Linked DNA regions of Homo sapiens: region 2 is linked to region 1. A link means that fine-mapping ties the variant in region 1 to the expression of a gene that starts in the linked region. Tissue or cell type: whole blood. Region 1 holds a variant in brackets; the other region holds the start of a gene. All regions are shown on one strand. Distances are from middle to middle.

What was found. PIP is the estimated chance that this variant, and not a neighbour inherited with it, causes the effect.
Region 2: it holds the start of SPRED1, and the variant in region 1 is fine-mapped to the expression of SPRED1 in whole blood (INTERVAL, PIP 0.92).

Annotation. Positions count from the first base shown.
Region 1 is chr15:38,060,683-38,071,410 of GRCh38, forward strand. LINC02345 (long intergenic non-protein coding RNA 2345) reads left to right here. Exons shown (of 4, transcript NR_120330.1): 4 at 1,509-1,658. LINC01852 (long intergenic non-protein coding RNA 1852) reads right to left here. Exons shown (of 3, transcript NR_147201.1): 3 at 8,130-9,258. Among named protein-coding and RNA genes, the nearest start is that of LINC01852, 6.9 kb to the right of the region's middle. The variant T/G (reference allele first, on the strand shown) is at 3,936.
Region 2 is chr15:38,246,075-38,256,802 of GRCh38, forward strand. It overlaps SPRED1 (sprouty related EVH1 domain containing 1), which reads left to right and starts at 6,762. Exons shown (of 7, transcript NM_152594.3): 1 at 6,762-7,143. The coding sequence starts at 7,112. RefSeq lists silencers at 5,174-5,468, 5,232-5,281, 6,112-6,411, 6,422-6,471, 6,572-6,671 and 2 more.

The DNA of each region.
Region 1 (10,728 bases):
TTTGGCAAGAGGTGAGAAACGGAAAATAGTGAAGGAGGAAAGAAAGACTTCAAAGACAAGGTGGAAAAGAAAAGCTAGGTGTGATAAAGATCCAGGGGTCAAAATGGATAAATTTGGGGAGAATTCAGCCACTCATTCATTAATTACTTATTAAACACTGAGCTAAGGATCACATGCCAGGCCCTGGGATACAAAGATGAGAGTACTGCCTCAGTAGAGCTGACAAGCTAATAGTCCCTTCGTCTGCAAAATGAGGCTAATAATAGTAATCACTTCACAGGGTTGTGAGGATTAAATGAGATGATCTGTGCAAACCACCTTGCATTACTGAACTACTTAATAAATCAACTACTTTTCTCCTCGTTTCTTCCTGATATTTCACTCTAAATTGGAGACGGAAAGAGAGATTCATAAGAGTGTTTGGATTTTAATACACTCACACTCCAAATTTATTTTGAGCTGCTCATGTTAATAGCAGCAGAACATTTCTTTCTTCTTTTACTCCTGGTGTTAGAAAGCTTTAAGCAATGAATTGCAGTAGAGACTATAGGAGTAAAGTGTGAATGTATGCAAGAATATTTGAGAGAAGAAATAAAAACAGAAAATAAAGACCAAAGGGATGTGTACAATAATTGAAGAGTGGCCATTGTATTTAGGACAACCTTCCAATTATCCATAAGGATCATTAAATAAGGGAAAGAAGAATCAGCCAGCTAGTGCAGCTCCAGGTGACAGTCTCCAGGCCTATTCAGAGGTTTGGAGTACATTGGAATTACAAATCAATGCAGATTAAAGTCATCTCTCCCTGATCAGCACCAGGTACCGAACCTCAGCATCAACAAGACCGGCCCAGATTCACTTGGATCGCTGTAAGGCCGCCTATCTCATGGAGGCAGTCTAGATGAGTCTAGATAGAGGACAGATACGTTAAGATTTTTGTTTTTGTTTTTTGTTTTTTAGGCCCAGTGCGGTGGCTCTAGCCTGTAATCCCAGCACTTTGGGAGGTCGCAGCAGGAGGATAGCTTGAGCCCAGAGTTTGAGACCAGCCTGAGCAACACAGTGCGACCTCCATCTCTACAAAAAAAATTAAAATAAAAATAAATTAGGTGGGTGTGGTGGTGCATGCCTCTTGTCCCAGCTACTCAGGAGGCTGAGGTGGGAAGATCGCTTGAGCTTAGGAGGTCAAGGCTGTAGTGAGCTGTGATCACACCACTGCACTCCAGCACTGGGTGACAGAATGAGATGCTGTCTCAGAAAAATAAAAAAAAAAAAAAAGTTTTTTCAGAAAAAGAAGAAACAGGAGCGCAGTCATTAGGGAGCAGCAGAGTAAATAAAATCCTAAACACCTGTCTCCAAACCTCAATCAATGGTAAACAGCCGCTGCTTGCTGTCCTTAATTTTAACGTTTTTTTTCTTTTCTAGTGAAGAAAATGTCCCGATAGAAGAAATGACTGATGACATAAGGACAGTGCTAAATTAATAACCAATCATTCCTCTTCCTCCTCCAGCTGTGTAGCAGACTCCTCTTATAAACCTCTGCGAAGTTCTACTTGAAAAGCTGTGGTTTCATTTCAAAGGAAACCAGCAATCAGGGGGATCTCTACAGGAAAATCTCTTCCCTATGTCTTCTTTAGACTCTTCAAAAAGGAGAGAGAGCACAAAAAAAGAAAATACACAAGTAAATAGGTTCAAGTACATCAAGAATCACAGTTTCTAAAAAGGCTAGTGAAAGGTCAATGACTTCAGAGTCAAGAAATCCATTTCTAATGTTTCTTCAGCTGTGACTCATTGTGAAATGTTGAGGAGGGTCACAGAAGCCTCCAGCCCTCGGTTTCCCCAGCTGTAAAACAAATATTTGAATAAGTGGCCAGTCCACATTATAGCTGATGTGCTTTCAGGGACTCAAAATGAGAATCATAAATATGTAAAAATACAAAGATAAGGTGTTCCCTGTAGAAAAACACTAAACTAGCAGAAAAAGAAACATCACATTTGTGTGCTAATTGGGTATTCCAGATTAAAGTAATTTGTTAAAAATTATTGGAAGAAAAATCCATAATTTGGCAATAAAAAGGATTTCCGTAAGAAGAGACAGACAAGATCATAACAGATTCAGTGACTCTAGGTTACTCAGCCAAATTAAAATGCTCTCCTTTCATCCTCGAAGGGAAATCCTTGAGAAGTTTGTGGACCGTCACCATCTGTTCAGCAAAACATGCATCAACATAATATTTTCCACATGTTTTTTGTTTTCTTTTTAATTTTGCAAACGGAGATTAATCTTTTCCTAGTCAGAATGTTTTACTATAACCATTGTCAGAGGAAATAAGTGGAAACTCGGTTTTGATCCCACTTCTCTCCCTACCCACTCGCCACCATTTGCGTTTTCTATGGTGATGTGTGGATTAAAGCTGAGGAGAAACTAATAATTCACATCCTTTGCAGATCATGACAAGTCTGTATTTCATAAAACTGGAGAAATCCTGCTCTGAAGCTCATTTTTCATGCAGCTACAAAATCATCTCTTTCTTCTCATCAGAACTCCATAGTGACATCCATCAATAGCTGGATCAAGGCCAAGAGTGCCATAACCACCTACGGATTCACTCTTCGCTGTGCCATGCCAGTCAACTATGCCCTTCCCTACTATCCTTCTTCCACCACCATTCCTCTGACTGTCAGGCTCAGCAAACAGCTTGCAGTTGGTCAATGAGTGCTTACCAAGCCCCGGCTCTGTGCCCAGCATCATGCAAAGCATAAATGGACATGGACAACAGTCTTAAACTACTTCCTACCCACAAGCAGCTCACAAACTTGTTGGGAAGAAAGTAGAACAAGGAGAGGAAAAGACAGTAAAAGCACCCACTGTGACATGGTAAAAATGATGTTGACAACAATAATGATGGTGCTGGGATCTAACTCCTCTATTTTGCCTGTAACTTGTCTTCCGAGTTTCTACACATTGGTTGGCCAGAGGAAAATTAACTTTGAATTCCATCTAGTCAAAAGTTTAGTATGGTCCAATAATTATAGTAGTCCCTTTAAGAAATGCTCAGCTGTACAATACTCATTTTCCAAAAAGCTTAAATCTTAGAAAACAGTTCCCTTGTCCATTTAGGTGGGTTTGTGTAATGCTGATCAAAGTCTGGTCCATCTAGGACCTCTGATAATATTACTGTCACTCCCAAAGCTAGGTTTATTTCCACCTGGTTGCAATACTCATAAAGAAAGAAAACCACTAAGTGATGTGTTAATAACAGGTATGTATAGAAAGCACCACTGTTATTTTAAACAAGTAAAATGAAACCCAAAAAGTTTGGCAATACAAGAAGTGCTATGGGCTAAACTGTGTCCTCACAAAAATTCATATATTGAAGCCCTAATGTCCAGTACCTCAGAATGTGACCGTATTCGGAGATAGGGCTTTAAAGAGGCGATGAAGTTAAAACAAAGTCATTGAGGTGAGGCTCTAATTCAACGACTGATATCCTTATAAGAAGAGGAAATCTGGACATAGATGGGCCCAGAGGAAAGATCACATTAAGACAGAAAAAGAAGATGGCCGCCTACAAGCCTAAGAGAGAAGCCTCGGGAGAAACCAACCCTGATGACAACTTGATCTCAGATGGCTGGCCTTTAAAATTGTGAGAAACTAAGTTTTTGTTGTTTAAGGCACCCAGTCTGTGGTACTTTGTTATGGCAACCCTAACAAGCTAATACAATAACCAATCTCTAAAAAACATCTCTCTGTGAATGATACAAGAATCCAGGGTTCTGTTTTTCTCACTGACATTTTTGCTGTTTTAATACTAAAATGGTGTCTGGCATAAAAAATGTTTGATAATGTTTGTTGAATTAATAAGTAGATATTATCTTTGCTGTTAATTCATGATACAATTTTAATACATTTTACCAACCTAAATAGAAAATCAAAC[T/G]GAAAAAGTAACTTCCTCATTAAACAAACACAAAAAAATTCTAAATTTACATGCTAGGTAATTTCTAACAATAATTTTTTAAAAGGATTTTATCTTAATTTTCATTTATGTTTCTATAGCCAGAGTCTTCCCAAGATTCAATACTTTGTTTGGTTTCCTATCATCTCAATGATCTCTTCCAAATCCTGCTGAAGTTGTTAGAAGTAAAATTATCTCCATCTTATAAATGGGAAAAGTAAACTGGCAAGTCAAAGAATTTTCTAGAGAATAGGCCCACAGAGAAGGCTGTTAAACCAGGATGGAGAGATTTAAACACATACACCTAGGGGAGGCAGAGAAGAGACGGGAACATGAGGTGGCCTGAAAATGAGCACAGTATTTGAAGGTCTCCCAACATGAGTTTGATCACATTTAAAGCCCACCAATTTAGAGCTTTTTCAAACTCCATTCAAAGGGGGTTTTCCTGACGTATCTGCAAAACCTAATAAGAAGGCCCTGTCCTCTGTGTAAGCAGCTTTTCATACATGCATATATTCATTTATTGATTCATTCAGTAACTACTTATTGAGCATCTACTATGTGAAAGGCATTCCTATCAGCCCTGGAGATGCAATCGTGAGTAAAACAGACAGAAATGTCCCTGCCCTCACGGAGTTTACATCCTGGTAGTGGGGACAGAAAATTTAAAAAAAATAAATAAGTAAAATATGTGTCAGTATTAAGTACCATGGAGAAAAAATTAAACAGCGATGAAAAATATAAAACGTAAGGATGGTTGAAATATTCGGTCAGCCAGGAAAGGTGTCATGAAGTTGAGTTAGGAAACTGACTACATGAGAAACATTTAAACACCTTCTTACCTTGTCAGACGGTATTCTGAGTTCCAGATTCAAGCAGCCTGGTTTCCATACACAGTACCACTTTTTATTTATTGTGAGAAAATTGCCTAATTTTGTGTCTCAGTTTCTTTATCTGTAAAATGGGGATAATTTTTTTAACTAGTAGAGTTGTGAAGAGTCAATTTAAAAACAAAACACATTTAGTGCTTAAAACAGTGCCTGATGTATAAGAACTCAATAAATATTAGGTTTTGTAGTTGCTTTTGTGTTTTTTTTACTTTCTATGATCTAATTTCAAGATTGTTAAAATGGGACTCATAATGCCAGGCTTCACTGAATTTTTGTAGGAATCTCACGAGACAAGACATAAAGAGCCCTTGGAGTTTGGATCATAGTAAGCACTAAATGTATGCTTCCTGCTCCTGTTACCATTGTAACCAGGCAACATTTTTGTTTTCTTAACTATTGCAACAGTATTTGACTTGGAACAATAGCCATCGGGAATAGAAGGTTAGATCCTGAGGACATGGACGTACATCCACAATAATCTTAGCATAAAAGAAAAGAGAGATAGTTAAGCTTCTCTGCACTTGAAAACAAGAGGATGGGAGTATTGGGAGAAACAGAAAGCAGAAGAGAAAAAGGGGAAGGAGAGAGGCACCGAGGAGCTGTTGTGAAGCTGGGGATTTTATAGGATGAGGGAAGGGTATCTATTCGCTAAGGATGGGATAGTGGAGAAACATTTTACAAATAAAGATGAGTCAAGTTAAATTTGAAATTATTTTTGTTTCAACATGAACTGCACTTCTGTCTCCTCATGCCACCAAAAGTTTTAATAAATACATTATACTCACAAGTGCTTTGTAGGGTCTTTTGTGCAAATTAGATGTGCCAAAAATGACCGTGAAAATGTGGACTTCACAGAATTTGGAGAAAACTTAGGGAGGACTTTGGACTTCTACAGGGAATGAATAGAGCTTGAGACAATCCTACCTAGGTCTTTGATATCTGCATAACAACATTAATATTAGTAATATTAATTCAATCGGAGAAGCAAAACCATTAGGAAGTGTGTGTGTGTGTGTGTGTGTGTGTGTGTGTGTGTGTTTTGCTTGGGAGGAGTGGATTTATTATGGAGATTTGAACTTACACAATGGGGGCTGGTTAAAAAGTCTTTGTAAGGCTGTTGTCTTTGTGCCTGATGCTGGAGCTTGAAGTCCACAGCATGGGTCTTCAGGAAGAGAAGATAAGATAGAAAGTAGGAGTGAGCAAGTACAATCCGGAATTTACAAGGACAGGAACAGACTGCAACCCATATCAGTTATAATCGCCTCTAACCTTGATGATGTGGGCATCGTGCCTGAAGGAGCCAGGGCTCTTTGTCACAGAACTAAATACACATGTGGCCCAAGAGTCAGAAAACTGAAGGGAGGATCCCAGAAAGGTGGGGCAGTTTTAGGCCAAGCTAAAGCTATAATTCTAATCAAACTAAATTAAATGTATTTATTAATAAATCTTAATAAAAATTCCTTAATGTTTTAAAATCAAAGATAAGTTATTATCTCTGGTAATTATCCCTTCTGGCTACTTCATTCTCAATGATGAAAGCCTGTGGTTGGATAGAGAAGTCAGAAAAGACAAGAAAGGGAAATGTCCTATTGATGACCGCATCCAATGCTCAGTTTAATTTCTTTAAGCCCCCAGGATAATACTGTTTTGTTGTCTTCGATTATCGTTTTCTATAAGCTAATGGCCCTTCACCTATTTAAGCCTGGTGTTCCATTATTGGAATGCTAAGCACGTGGGAATTATTTATATCCTACTGCTCAAGGTCATCACCAAGGTCTGATTCCAAAAATTCCAAAAATTGCAACCTCAGGCATGAATGGGTTAATTGGAAGAGGAATCCTTAGTCCGTCGGTAAGTTCTAGTACAGGGAAAAAAAAATAGGCAAATCAATACCTAATTTTCTGACAGAGAAAATCCATTACAAGGATGGTTGCCTTTGAAAGTATCTCAATAGGAGTCATATCAAGTCTTCTCATTTCAATGACTAGAAAAATGAATAAACTCTGGCTAGACAACTTATGAAATTATCCATCCCTGCATCATCCATCAGTCAGATGATAAGGTCCCAAGCTATAGTGACTGGATAATATTCATATAAAACTTCAGCCTGGTGGGAGAAAATAAATCAAGTTGTTACACTGTCACTATTTCCTAATAAAGATTTTACAGCCTGAGGTTGTGAAAGAATAAGGGTAATTTTTAATCGTTCCTTTAAATATACATTTCTATGTGTATAAATACACAAGCATATTAAATATATTATTTTCATTAAAATAACTTTCTCATATCAGGTGAATATCTGGAGCTAGGTAAGCAAAGCTAAAATGCAAATGTGGTCCACCATAGTAAGACAAGCCATTCTACTTATAGGATGACCTTACATAAAAATTTCCAAGGCGTGGTAGGAAAGCAAGTGCTGATCTTTCCATCTTCTTGCTAAGTGAACATTGCTCACTCCCAGTACCATGTTTCAAAGACCAACGGGCAAATATCCAATTCTCCCAATTGTTCATTTTTCTAGAAAAATAGAGATTACAACAGAGACCACCTAACTGCAATCAATTACAATATAGATGATGATGATTGATTGATTGATGATGACTATGATAGCCAGCATTTTGATGACATATTTTTACACATGTAGCTATTAATTTTGACTAAAACTACTTTTTATATTCCATTGTCTTCTGCGATGTCATGAAAAGGCCAAGTATAGCACTCCAAGTACTGGTGGACTGGGGATTTTTTAAGAAAGAGAGGAAAAGTACAGAAACAGATGCAAGAACTCTGGGTCAGCCAGATCAGCAATCAGGGGGTGTCTGAGGGTTTCAGTCCTCATCACTCCACCACCATAACTCCCATTCACCCTTTAAAATTCTATTTTGTCTTTACTGTTATTCTTCTAATATCAGCACTATTCTCTATGAATGAATCCTTCTTATCATGCAGCCAAAACTTATATTACTTGGGTACAGAGAACAATCACATCATACCACAAGTCTCCCTGAAGCAAAATAGTTAAAAGCACATTCTTTTTAGTTTAAAATTAAACAGCCTCATCTGACTTTCTTTTTCTTTTTTTTTTTTTCTTTTTTTTTTTTTTTTTTGATGGCAGCAAACACTGGATCTGCCTCAAGCCTTCCCTGGCTGCCCTGCAAACTTACACCAGTCCACAGAGGTGCTGAAACCTCTGAGAGGCAAGTAACAAGCAGCATGAAAATGGAACTAATGATCCACAGCTTCATCCTTTGTTTCCAGAAGCAACTGGTGTCCGCTTTCAGAATCTCTGAGACTGGAAATGATGGGAAATAGTAAGGGAAGCTATGTGGTCCAGAAAAAAAATAGTTGTGGACCTGAATGGCTTGCCATTATTACATTTCCCTATTGGGCCAGCATACTGCCTCTTTGCAGTTTGCCAGATTTCGCCTAACCTCATCCACATTTAAAAGTCTATGGAAAAACAGGAGGGCCTTTCAGGGGGAAATTCATTCATGTTTGGATTCAGGCAGATTTAGGAACCTTTAATAGCACTGTAATTACCCTGCAGGGCACACCACAGAGCAGCCAGCAAGCTCTCCCTCAATGGACACAAAATTTCCTCTGGAATTTACAGAGCAGAAACCTTAAACACACATCGCCATAAGAACCAGATTACATAATGTCTCCATCACCCTCCTGACAGCTACAATTATGAGTCAATCCCTGGTTTAAATATGAAACCGGAAGCTCCGTGTTTCCCCTCTGACTATGTGGCAGGCTGAGTTGAGCTCTTCGGGGCTGTCAGTTTGGAGATCTAAGCTGCTCCCACAGTCACTAATTTAGCATGAGACCAAATGACGGGGTAATTAAAAGCAGTGCTGCAGAGACCCGCTCCAGGACCAGATGTTCTCCTTGTTTAATCGCTGCCCACATAAGGAACAGAAATAGCCCCCTCCTTTAATTTTTCCTTTTCTTTATCCTCTCCAGATAATTTCCGGCTTCTGATCTTTCAATCCCACAAAATAAAATAAAAATAAAAGCCCCATTAGGAAAGATGACATGTTATTGAACATATGACTGTAAGTTGTAATGCACTCTTGCAGTCTCCTCTTTGTACTTCTTGAAGCATTCCAACTCATAAGACATTAAGTTGCCCTGGCAACCTCACATGACTAACAGCTCCAGAGAGCCCCACCTAACTGCAAGGGCTCATTTAAGTCAACATGGGCCACCCCAGCACTTAGTAGCCCAGGTCTGAGTAAATAGCCTTGCTTTTTGGCTTTTTAGAACAGGCTGGAGGAGGCGGCCCCTCCCCTTTTATTGCCCCAAACACAGGACAAATAAGTCTCCACCCTAACTTCTCCAGGAACTTGACTAAAAAGGCCAGGGGTCATCTGGCAAATCAAGGCGAGGTCTTCTCTTCACGTTTCTGGCTTCTGGACAAATAAGGCAGAAGAAAAGGGAAGTTGAGCTAATAATGTATACCTTCCAAAAATGGAAAAGCAGTATGCAATATGGCTATCTCAATCTTATCAAATCAGACGAGGCAGCTTTCTTATGTCCCTTGGGATGCAGAGTCTGGTCTCTATCTAAATAGCAGGCTTCCTTGGCATTAAAGCACTAGAGGCCTTGAGGACAGTCTTGGAAATCAGGAGAATAGAGATCCAACTCTAATTCCACCGTTTGTGACAACAGACAAGCCACTTTACCTCTCTGAGGTTATTTCTTAATTGGCAGTACGGAATGACCATCCTTGTTTTTTTCTCTTCTGGGACCTGTCTCTGCAAACTTCATCCTCATCCACAATTCTCAAGCATGTGGAGTTCTAGGTTTTTAAGATAAAAGGTGCTAATGAATTGTATTTCCAGATAAATAGGTATAGTCTTTTTAAAAAAACAAGTTAATCAAAATTTATAAAACATGATCACTTGAGATTTTTGACTTTATGGAGGTAATCAGACAAGAACCTTTGATCCTTGCTTTCACTAATCCCTTCTGAATCATTGATTATTTGCTAGTGTCAGGTAGATCGACTCAAGTCACTGCCTAGTAATGACCAATCTGAAATGAGGATAAAGGTGCTCTACAAAAGCATATTGTAAATCAGAAAGAAACAGAAATACCCAATGATTTGATGAAAACTCACTAGTTCTGTAAAGGGAGGGAAACCACAACTGTTACTGTTGTACAACTTTTGTTCTATCCTGGAATCACCTCACATGTGAGATTTTTAAGTGGGTTGTACTCACCTGGTTAAATAGACACGAATGGGACAGTCTGAAAAACAGTCTCCACTCTCAGGGTTGATGCCCACATCAAGACAAAAAGCCAAACGGACCCACAGGACAAGAAACAATGTTGTGGGCAGCCGTGTGTTTCGCATATTGCCCCTGACACAAACAAGGAATTATGGAGGTCCCATCTTTAAACAGACTTTATATTACTCACCATCTGATCAGTGTGTGTGTGTGTGTGTGTGTGTGTGTGGTGTAAGAGTGAGGGAAAAAGACAGGAGCAGGCATTTGCTTACCTAGGCATTACTTGAATGGTATTTCCTGCAGACATGTGGAGGTATATTTAAGGTAGCAAGTACTCTACTATCTCATGTTTATCAACTTCCTGATTGGGATGCAAAAGTGTATTGGATTTTCTGAGTGGAAAACATATTCGTGTATTCCAGACCTCAGAGGAAAACAACCAAATAGAAGTCTAAACCAGGCCCAAAATAACAAGAACCATGGGGACACATTTAGAGCAACGTATAAGAAACAATGATGTCCATCATGCATGGCCATTACTCTTCCCGCCCTGCTTCTCTGGGGTGTTTAAAGAATCAGTGATTGACTAGGCACACTCCTTATGAATATAAAACATGATTCATGTTTGCCAGTATTAACCATCCACTC
Region 2 (10,728 bases), 190 kb after region 1:
GGAGGCTGAGGTGGGAGGATTGCTTGACTCTGGGAAGTGGAGATTGCAATGAGCTGAGATTGTGCCACTGCACTCCAGCCTGGGCAACAGAGGAAGAAAAAAAAAAAACCCAAACTAAACAAACAAAAACCATTTTTTAACAAAATAAACCAGTCAATGAATTTATGCTTCCCAGTATAGATATGTTCTGTAGGTTTATCAAAGACTTATACATCAAAGATAATTATGAAATTATCCTCCCTTTTACCCTTAGTTAATGGCAATGAAGAGATGATCTACAGTGCCCCAGTTCACACTAATAATGTATTTGAGAGCATAATCCTTGTTACATGTCTACTTTAATAACAAGATAACTACTTTTGTTATTTACAGCAACACATTTGCACATTCATGTGTCTAAGAAAACAACCCGTGATGACAGAAATGTTTTATATCTAGATTGTTCAATATGATAGCGACTAACCACTTGTGGCTATTGAGCACTTGAAACATGGCTAGTATACCTGAGGAATAAACAGCCACATATGGCTAGTGGTTACCATGATCATCGATATCTGCTAGCATCACCCAAAGACAACCAGATGTTATTTGCCTTCTGATTGAAGTAGTCCTCCTATCAAGGCTCTAGATTTAGAAACCAATTTACAAAAGAGACTCCAGATGTCCCCAGACCCTACTCTAAGAACTGATGGTATAAAGGAACTTACGTACCTGAGGCCCACAAAAGGCAGCTGATAATAGCCAAGGAATTTAATTCTTTCGTTATCTAAAAGTAGGACTCTCCTGTTAAATCATTATCCAAAGTAATAATGACTTGAAAGTCTATCCCACCAAATATCCCATCTTTGAGAAATTATAATATTGAAACATACACACATACACACCCACACACACAGAATTTTGAAGGAGGGGATGAAACGGGGTTGAGCTCTAGCCATGCCTTTACTATTGTGTAACCTCTGGGACCTCTCTGATCTTCAGTTTGCAAGTCTCTTTGTAACCTGGAGTTAATAATAATACCTACTGGGGAAGGGTGTTAGGAAGGTAAGTTCCTGAAGGGCAATGTGTATTTCAAATGTAATCCTGTTGTAATCCTATACCATGGTTAATTAGTACTCATTAAAAGGGAAAGCAATGCCATATTTAAAGCAAAATCCAAGGAACCAACCTAGAATCTTTTGTCATACTAAATTTGTGTTGCACGTGGCCTTGGATTATTTTATGATGGGTATTTCAGTCCTTCATATTTGTTGTAGTGGGACATAACCGTTAAAGAATGAGCATGCTAAAGCCATTTGGGAGAATAATGGTAAGTGCTTTATTTAGTAGTGTGGGGTCTGGTAAGCATCCTCCCTGCTAAGATTATACAGAAAATAAAGGAAATTGCAGACTGCTCATTTCCCTTGTACTCATCCTAATCTTGTGGAAACTTCCTGTAAAAGGCAGTTATAGCATTAAAAGTAAACTGATTACACACTCACCGGATACTGCCAAACCAACAATTGCCGTCCTTAGGGAAAAAAGGAAAACAGCATACTTATCCTTTATACTTTGCATTAGTTTGGAAGAACATGGGAATCCTAGTGATGGGGAAGCAGACTCATGCCAGAGGCAAGGAAACTATTTAGAAACATGGTTACCACTTAGTAATTCCACTGAGAGGCAGGGCTCATTAGCCAAGAGACTGGTTAAACTAAAGAAAAAAAATCATTTATTAAACAAAGTACATGATGAAAATAGGAAGTTCCGATTGATCAAGGCACACATTAACTACAGTTTTAAAAAACAAAATTTTAATAACATCTGCTAAGGAGTAATGTTAAGGGTAATTTTAGAAATGGAAATATGCACTTGTATTTTATGTACTTTTAGAACCTCATATGTTGGCATGGCTGTCTCCTCTTTTGGCTTCTCAAGAATACAAATATCTGATGAGAGCTTCTGGTGCAAGGCACAGTGTATGTGAAATGCTAAACTGCAATAGTATTAAGTCCCAATAGTAAGCCAGAGGGGATTCCTGATTTCAACTCCAGTGCCAGTCAGTATAGCTTCATTTTTATATATAGTCAAGGCTCTGGTATAGTATTTTACCTAAAAAGCCTCTATTACTTACGACCACTGCTAAAAAGGATGCCAAAAAATATAAAGGGCAGCCCCTACCTTCAAGTCACTAAAATTTAATTGGGAAAACAAATATAAACTCATAAAAAATGAATCAGCAAAAATAATAATTATCAACACAAGTATAAACAGCAAAGGCAAAAATAAAAGAATCTGAGAAGACCAATTCTGAACTCATAAGAAAGATGATTACTATGGGCTGAGCAATGTGAAAAAAAGAAAAGAAACTTTGAATAGGAAAATAGCATGCCATCTGCCAGTGTCTCAGTGAGGACAGCCTACTTTTTGCTGTCCTTGTGAATAAACCCTGGCCTGATACCTACATGGAACTCAGAATCCACTTGTACCTTCTTAACTTGGATCATATCCTATACTGGCAATTACTTGGCAATTGTTCTCTTGTTCCTCCCTCTTTGGCCCATGGATCCTATTGATAATTAATTACCTCGAACAGGTCATTAAATGGTTGTGGCTAATTCCTAAAGCTGAGGACAATAATACAGATAGTCACTTGTGATAACCAGCTATTGTGACTAGCTTCCTTCCCACAGGGCTACCTAGAAAACACAACTGAGCAAATATAAGTATCTCCTTTCTTGCTGAGCCCGAATGTGGCCATAGAATTCTTCTTGATTAGTACCAACTGAATGGAGTTGGAGCTTAAGACAAAACTGTGATCTGTATTTAGCTTCTCACATCTGGCTGGATCCCCTTTCCTAACTGAACTATCCCTCTGGCCTTGACCAGTGTCTATCTAAGCTTATGATATACCACTGGCCACCCTTTTTTGTGTTTAGCTGGAACACAGCTTTCAATCACGGATGTGCTGGGAGACAGGATGACAAAAATGGTTTTAAGGAAAGGGGGAGTAGATGATGAAGGACTAAAAAGGGCCAAGCACCTGGCATACTTACAAAAGCATGGCCCCATCATAGACCTAGTGATCACAATTTCTGAGCTGGGGTCTAGGAATCTGCATTTTAAGTACTTGCAGTGTATTTTAAAAAAATTATTATAGAACATTTTAAATTATAAAATAGTAAAGAGAATGTATTCATCATTAATCTATAACCAATCTTGTTTCATCTATATCCTTACCCATTCTTCCTACTCCTCACCCCAGTGGATTATTCTGAAGCATAACGTTTCATCTGTAAATATTTTAGTACATATCTCTGAAAGGTAAGGACTTGAAGAAAATGTTGCCATAAACCAATACTTAAAAAAAATTCCTTGTTTTCATCAAATCTCCAGTTAATGTTCAAATCTCTCCAGTTGTCCCAAATTTAAAAATATTTAAGTCACGATCCAAATAAGATCTCACACATTGTCTTTGGTTGGTACGTCTCTTTACTCTTAAGGTCCAGACACCCGGATAGATAAGTCGAGGCCTCCTGAGTATAGAGCAGCCAGTGATTGACAGTCAGACTAGAAGATCCCTTGGCTCTGAGCAGTAGCACCATTTCTGACTGCTTCAGAGTAGAAGACTCTGAGCTCTGCTAAACCAAAGCAAATTTTTAAAAAGTTGGTGAGATCTTTAACAACTGGGTGAGAGAACTACAAATGCGTTGTTGAAAAAAGGGCACAAAAGTGTTCTAGAAATGGCATAGGACCACCAAAGGCTGTGGATGGTTTGCTGACTATGTCTTGGTCGTGGAGTTGAGAGCAATCTTTAAAGCATTAATTTGGGCTATTGATCACATCTTGCTCCCTTTATGTAAGCAGTGTGTGGTGTATGTGGAATGTGGAAATAGCCAGCACAGTGCCTGGCTCATGACAACCAAGATTCTTCCAAAGACTATACTGACAATTTCCTTGATACACTAGAACCTCAAACAGATGCAAATCTTCAAAAGATAAAGGCCTTTGCAAATGACCGACTTTCCTTCTATTTACTTAATCATAATAACTGTGATAGTTTCATTTATTAATGGCTTACTAAGGACCAGGCCATGTGTCTAGCAACTGATAGTTATTTGTTGAATGCATGAACAAGAATATTGAATGCTTTACATTTAATCCTCAGAGCATCTGCCACTATTTTGCCATGAAGTTTATTACTATCTCTGACAAAACAGTAGTAAGAACTAGGACTTATTCTTACTGTGAATTCTTAATCTGTTCTAAGTAACTCTGTATATTATTATCTCGTTCATCAGCACAACAGCTGTGTAAGTTAAGTACTATTATCCCCATTTTATGCAGGCCCAGAGTTTCAGTAACTTGGATAAGAACACAGATTATAACTGATGGTACTTGACTGAAACTTGAGCAGCCTAACTGGTTAACAGTAGTCCTGGAAGGGGAAGAGGCCAGTATCAACACTCCCATGTATAAGTTCTTGGCAAGAATAAGTTCAAAAAGGCAGGTTTAGAGGTCATGTCTAGCACAGACCATCATCAACATTGCCCCTCTCTTTCTCAAGAGTAAGGACAATGCTGCTGCTGAGGCAGGAATCAAGTTACATAAAGAGACCTCAGAAATCAATGGGATGGTTTTTTGGGTACATTGACTGGTTTAGCGCCTCTGTTCATTCGTCAAACATTTATTAAGCACCTGCTACGTGCAAAACACTGTTAACAGTGCACTACTGTGCACGCTCATTCTCAGAACAACAATCCTGCGATTCCTGGAGAGGGATGGTAGAAGAGGAGTGCTGCCTTGTTAACGAGGTTCTCCCAACTTCTTTTTTTCCTCGGGAATTGTTCTCTTTAATGTGGCACCAGCGGCAACCTTCATTCTTAGGTCGCACAAATCTGAGAAGGAAGAGAAAAACATTGCACGCAGGGCGAGACTTATATCTGGGAAGATGCGTCAGGAACTTGGGAGCACTTGGGATTCAGTCCCCTAAGGTGGTTCATGTACAGGCTGGTTTTCTAAGTGGAGAACAGATAATAGAATTTGCAGAGCCAGGAGCTCTGACTCCTGTGGCTGGGCTGACCTTAGGCTCCAGCCCGCAACCCCAGTAGGTTTCTGTGCAAAAATCTTTTGAGATGAATGCATACTTTGTCTTCTAACAATGCATTCGTGACAGCTGTCTATCCAATCGGTCCGCCTCCGTTCAGAGCAGTTCGTGCCACAGAAGCATCTCCTGCGCTATAGTTATGCAACCTCACTCGCAGCGGGAGTTATTTCCTCCGTTCTGGCTGCGCCAGATTCATGTAACACGCCTACCCTGGGCTTCAATGGAAGTCGTTCTCCATTAACAATCACTCCAGCTTTCCGAGATGAATGCCCTGATAGCATACCCCTTGCGCAGTAAGAATCCAGGCAGCGAGGCGAGGTGTTAAAACACACATACATTCTCATATTCTCTCTCTCTCTCTCTCACACACACACACACACACACACACACACACATACACTTCGTGCATGCAGCTAGGGGACTGCAGCAGTGCAACCAGGGGGACAGCAGGAGGAGCTCTCTTTGCAGTCCCTGCTTCTAACCCCCACTAACTAAAGATGAACTCATGCCAGTTCCATTCTTTGCTCTGCAAAGAAAACACACACACACACACACACACACACACACACACACACACACACACGGCAGAAGAGAGTAGCCTCCAGATTTCCCCTCTGAGCACACTGTCTTTCTAGCCTCTTCGTTCAAGCAACCCGGATATTCCAAGCAGAGTAACGGGGAGTAACGCGCCACAACAATGCAACCTCCCTAGCAGCTCCCCTCGCAGCTCCCACCCCCGCCCCCTTTCGCGGCGTGCCAAGAGTTTGGAGCGCGCGCACGCACACCGAGCACGGTGCAGGGAGGATATCCCTCCGCCTCCCTCCCCCTTTCTCCGCTAAGTGGCTCGACAACGATTTGGGAAATGAAGGGAGGAGGGAACTACTTTCCTGAAACTTGCTATGCTGCACATGACTTCGAGTTGCAGTGATTCGCCCGGAGGCCGCGGCTTTTAGTCCTACCCACACACCCTCACAGCCTGGGCACCCCGCTCGGCAGCCCCACCCCGCGCCCGCTCTGGCCTCCGGGGAAAGCGGGCGGCCGGGAGAAGTCGCGAGGGACTACTTCGCCTCCTTCTCTCGCGGGCGCCCCCGGTTCGGGCAGCGGCTGCGGCGGCGGAAGGAGCGGGCGGCGTGAGCGCTTCCGCCGCCCCCCTCGCGGCTCCCCTCTCTCGGGCGTGAGGAGCTGGCCCGCTGAGCTGCTGGTGGGCACTGGCTGGCGGGGAACCTGCAGCCGCTCTTGTCCTCTCCCGCCGCTTCTCGGGATCCTGCCCCCCGGACCCGGGCCCGCCCGCTCTTCTCCGGCCGGGTGGGAACGATCGGTTTGCCTGCCCCTCGCCTCACACGCTCCCCGCCGCCCCCTCCACCCCCCTGAGGAGGAGTCCCGGCTGGAGCGTGTCTGGAGGAATCCGCCGCCGCGGGGCCCCTAGCCCTGCTCTGCCGGCGCCTGAGGACCGACCCAGACGCCGCCGGGGGTTGAGGGGCAGCCGGCGGCGAGGCGGGAGATGGTGGGGTGGGCTCCGGCAGGACCGCGCCGCCGCTGCCCGGAGCCTGGGCTCGGCACCCCCCCGCCGGCCCCCACCGAGCGGAGCTCTGCTTCCTCCTCGCCGCATCCCTGAGGGAAGCGCCGCCTCTGCTCCCGGGTTCTCCGCCCGCCGACTCCTTCCTGGCCGGACCCCGCTGCGCTCCACCCCAGTGGCTGGAGGAGCAGCTCTCCAGTCAGCCTTTGCAGCCCCTCTCTTTTTCCCTTTCCACCGGGCCTCCTCGGATCCCTTGGCTGGGCACTGAGGCGGGGGAAGAGGCTGGGGTCGCCACGGCGGAGGTTGCTGCCGCCACCCCCCTGCGGGGGTGGCCGGGGTTCCCGGCTGGGGGGGTACCGTTCTGGGTGAGGCATCCACCATGGTGAGGCCCCTGTGCCGCTGCCCCCGCGCCCCCCCGGCCGCCGCTGCCTCCTGCCCCTCGGTGCTGCTGTTGCTCCCCCGCCTGCTGTTGCTCCTCCATCTCCAGATCGGATCACGGTGAGGGAAAGATGAGCGAGGAGACGGCGACTTCTGACAACGAGTAAGCGCCTCATTGATCTCGATTGCTAATCCCCCTCCCCCTATCCGCCCTCGGCTCTCCCCCAGACCCATCCGAAACTTGGGTGCCGGAAAGCTTGCGACCCTGGAGAGTTCGGTGCATCTTCTGGAGATAGCTGATTTCTTTAGCCATTTTTAGTGGCAGCACCCCTCCCCATCCTCCCACATTTAGCTGCTTTCTTTTGGGGTAGGGGATTAAGTGTTGGGAGAGGATGGCAATTGTACGTCTATGAGAGGGAATAATGTGGATGGATGGAAGTGGAGTAGAAACTACCCCTTTGCCTGTGAGACCCCTGTCCCGTCCTTTTTCACTCACATACCAGTCACCATACCTTCAGTATCCATCCTACTTCCTTTATAGCTGTTTCACTTGGAAACTAATGTGTGGGAGCACCTCCTGCAGCAAACTGCTCTTGAATCTTAATTCGATGAGTCAGTGACTCTTAAATACCGATTAAGCCTTCACCCTCTCCCCCCTCCCCCTTTTAAACTTATGACCTGTAAGATTCTTGTAAAAAATAGGGTTAGGGAAACATTTTTAGAATTTAATAGGATTAAGGACACCTGGAGTGTGGGCGATGTTGAGCTAGAGTTTACCTTTGTGAATATTGGACGTGTCTTCAGGAACGGAGAAGAATTTTGAATGCTAATTTTTACCTTTCAGCTATGTGAAAACACATGATTTACGTTGATGTAACCGAATTTACATTGCTGAATATGTTGGTGATTTCATTAACTTTTAGAGCATTCCGGTTTAAGTTTTAGCTTATTTGGGCTTTCTCCTTGCTTTCCAAACGAAATACTTCGTCTTTTAAATGTTTTGCTTTAACGTGACAGCTGCGTGGAGAAATAATGGTTGGCAACACTTTTCTATTGAGAAGGGATTTAATTCCAAGCAGAATATTAGCATCCGTTTTCTTGTAATTAAGTTCAACTTTTGTTTATCTTCGGAGGGTTGGAAAGAGTTAAGTGAGTTAGGACTTAGTCATTTGGATGCATTCCTTTAAATACAGTGCATTACTAAAGTCAGACCTTTTTGAAATAACTTTTTAAAGTCTGTACCGAGTCCTGTTTAACGTAAAATAGCTAGAGAAAGGCCAAACAACATTTCCTCCTCCCTTACTCCCTCCCCACCCCAAAACACACGCTTCTGCTGAGCGGGTGTAGAAGGAGGTACATTGCTGCAGTGTCAGTGCAGTGTAGAAGCAGAAGTGGCAGCCATGTTCTGTCTCTTTTTGTGAATCGCCCTCATTTGCATAGCACACTCTTCATTCATAAAAAAAATAATTAAACATCCATCACCTTGGACATCTTGAAAGGATTTCCCAAGAAAAAAAATTCGCGGCTTATTTGTCTGTGTGTAGATTTTTGAGTTCAGAAGGTAAGAAGAATGTGAAATTTTAGGTTAAATTTAAAAACATACGCACACACAAACAACTACCCCTGTTCTGAGAATGTTGACACAGTTATGTGGGAAATATCAGTTCGGGGAGGTGCTGGGATCACGTGATCGCCTCCATTCATAAAATACCTGGCTGTCCATTCAGAGTGCAGTACAGTCTCTCCCTGCCTTCTGCAGATTAGACCTACTTTGAGGGAGATCAAGAAGTCTATCTCAGATAATGGTTATTTAGGAGAAGAACTGCTAAAAATGCTGAACCGAATGACGGTAACTTTTATTGGTATCTTTCAAAAAGTTTGGATTAAAAATGTTAAGTTTTCTTTTAGAGATGGGAAAAGACTTCTTACCAGTTTAATTTTTTTCTTAAAGCAGTGAATATCTCCTTGTTTCCTTCTGGTTGCAGCTAATAAAAAAAGCAGATGATGGAATGTGAATTAACACAAGTAAAATATATTTTTTCTAAATGGCCATTTTTTTAAATACTTGCCATAAATAAATTGAGACAACAGGTTTTTTTGTATAGTGATAGTGCGTTCCACTGCTATTACAGTAAATTGAGAAAATACTCCCAGTGATTTAATCCCCAAGATGTTGATATTTGAAACACCGATGGCAATCTTCAGTGAGAGGATTGCTTTAAATATTTTTTTTTCATCTAAATGTACTTAGTATGGGACAACTTGGAAATTATCTCACTCACCCAGACTTTTAAAATCGTTTTTTCACAAATTTATCCTGCTTTATTAATAAATTATTCCCTAGGAGCTTTGTAATACTTTTTAAGTTTGGGCAGGGCGATAATAATATTTAGCATAATATTTTGGTAAACTCTTCATGGGAACAAAATCTTGGGGGTTTTACTTTAAAAAACTCTATTATATTAGAAAATAATGTGTTCATCTGATAATCAGTTTTACTAGAGCCAGCATTGTTTGCTTGTGCATTAGATAAACCACAGAGTGAACTTATTTGGAATGTAGCTTTTAATATAGTAATTTATGTCTCATCTTTAATAGGTGAACCGTTTTGAAATGGAAATTTATTATTTATAGTCATTATGAAGAAAGATACGTATCATGGCAGAAGCCATTAAGGCCTTAGCACAGTTTAAAACTGCCCTGTAACATGGATTTTATTTGGGCCTTACATTTTTTTCCCTTTTCTCTTTTTTAAAGCCATTGCTCATAGGGATTTAATTACAGTAGGGACTATTTTTAACATTCTTTAGTTTCTTTTTCACCTGATTTCAACCTTCAAGAAAAGTGAAAATCACCAGTTTCCTGGGAAACCATTAACCCTTTCTAGATAGCCATTGTGGTAAAATCCAGTAGGGCCTCATTCTGAAATCCTCGAGTACATGCTTATTATTTGAAATTAAAGTTTTATGTAGAGAAATGGATAACTCCTAGGCTGACTGTGAGAATATATTTAATCAAGAATTAGTGGGGGATCTGTTATGTGTAGGGCTTTGCTTTAATGCCAAACCAAGTAAGGAAGAAATAAATTAGAATAAAGCATTTCTTAGATTGTTTCACATTTATGTTTAAAAATCTTACTTTTCAAAAATAGTAAACATACTCTAGAGCAAAAGAATTTGTGTTATAAATAGTAGAGGAAATAGCCACATACATGTTTGTTTTGTAGGTAATTTGCACAGAGACTGTTTAATACTCCAGTCAAATGTTTCCGATAGATATAACTGTACCATATTTTACATTATTGAATTAGCCTTCTAAATAGAGTTTTAAACATTTAAAGGCATATTATATAATACTTAAGAGTCTTTGTCCTTTGGTATTGAGTGTATATAGCACTGCATGTCCTTTTGTCAATTTGGCCAAAACATTTGGAGAAGTGAAGTAGCTGAAATAATAAGCATTTGGCTTATTAGGTTCACGTTAGCCAGAAACACTTCCTGTGTCAGTATTAGGCTTTCTAATAGCAAGTTGGGATTATATTAGATTTTGGAATTAGGTTAACTAGAATTAGACCATGTATGATAAACGTACTATGTTGTAATCTGAGTTTGAACTGTTTTTCCGTAAATAGAAAGCAAATTTTTATGGTTATATCATTTAGTGCCTCATAAAAAATATACCCAGTGGTGAGTTATTTTTGATAAGTGTAAATAAACATATGTTCACCCCATACATTTTACGTATGTAT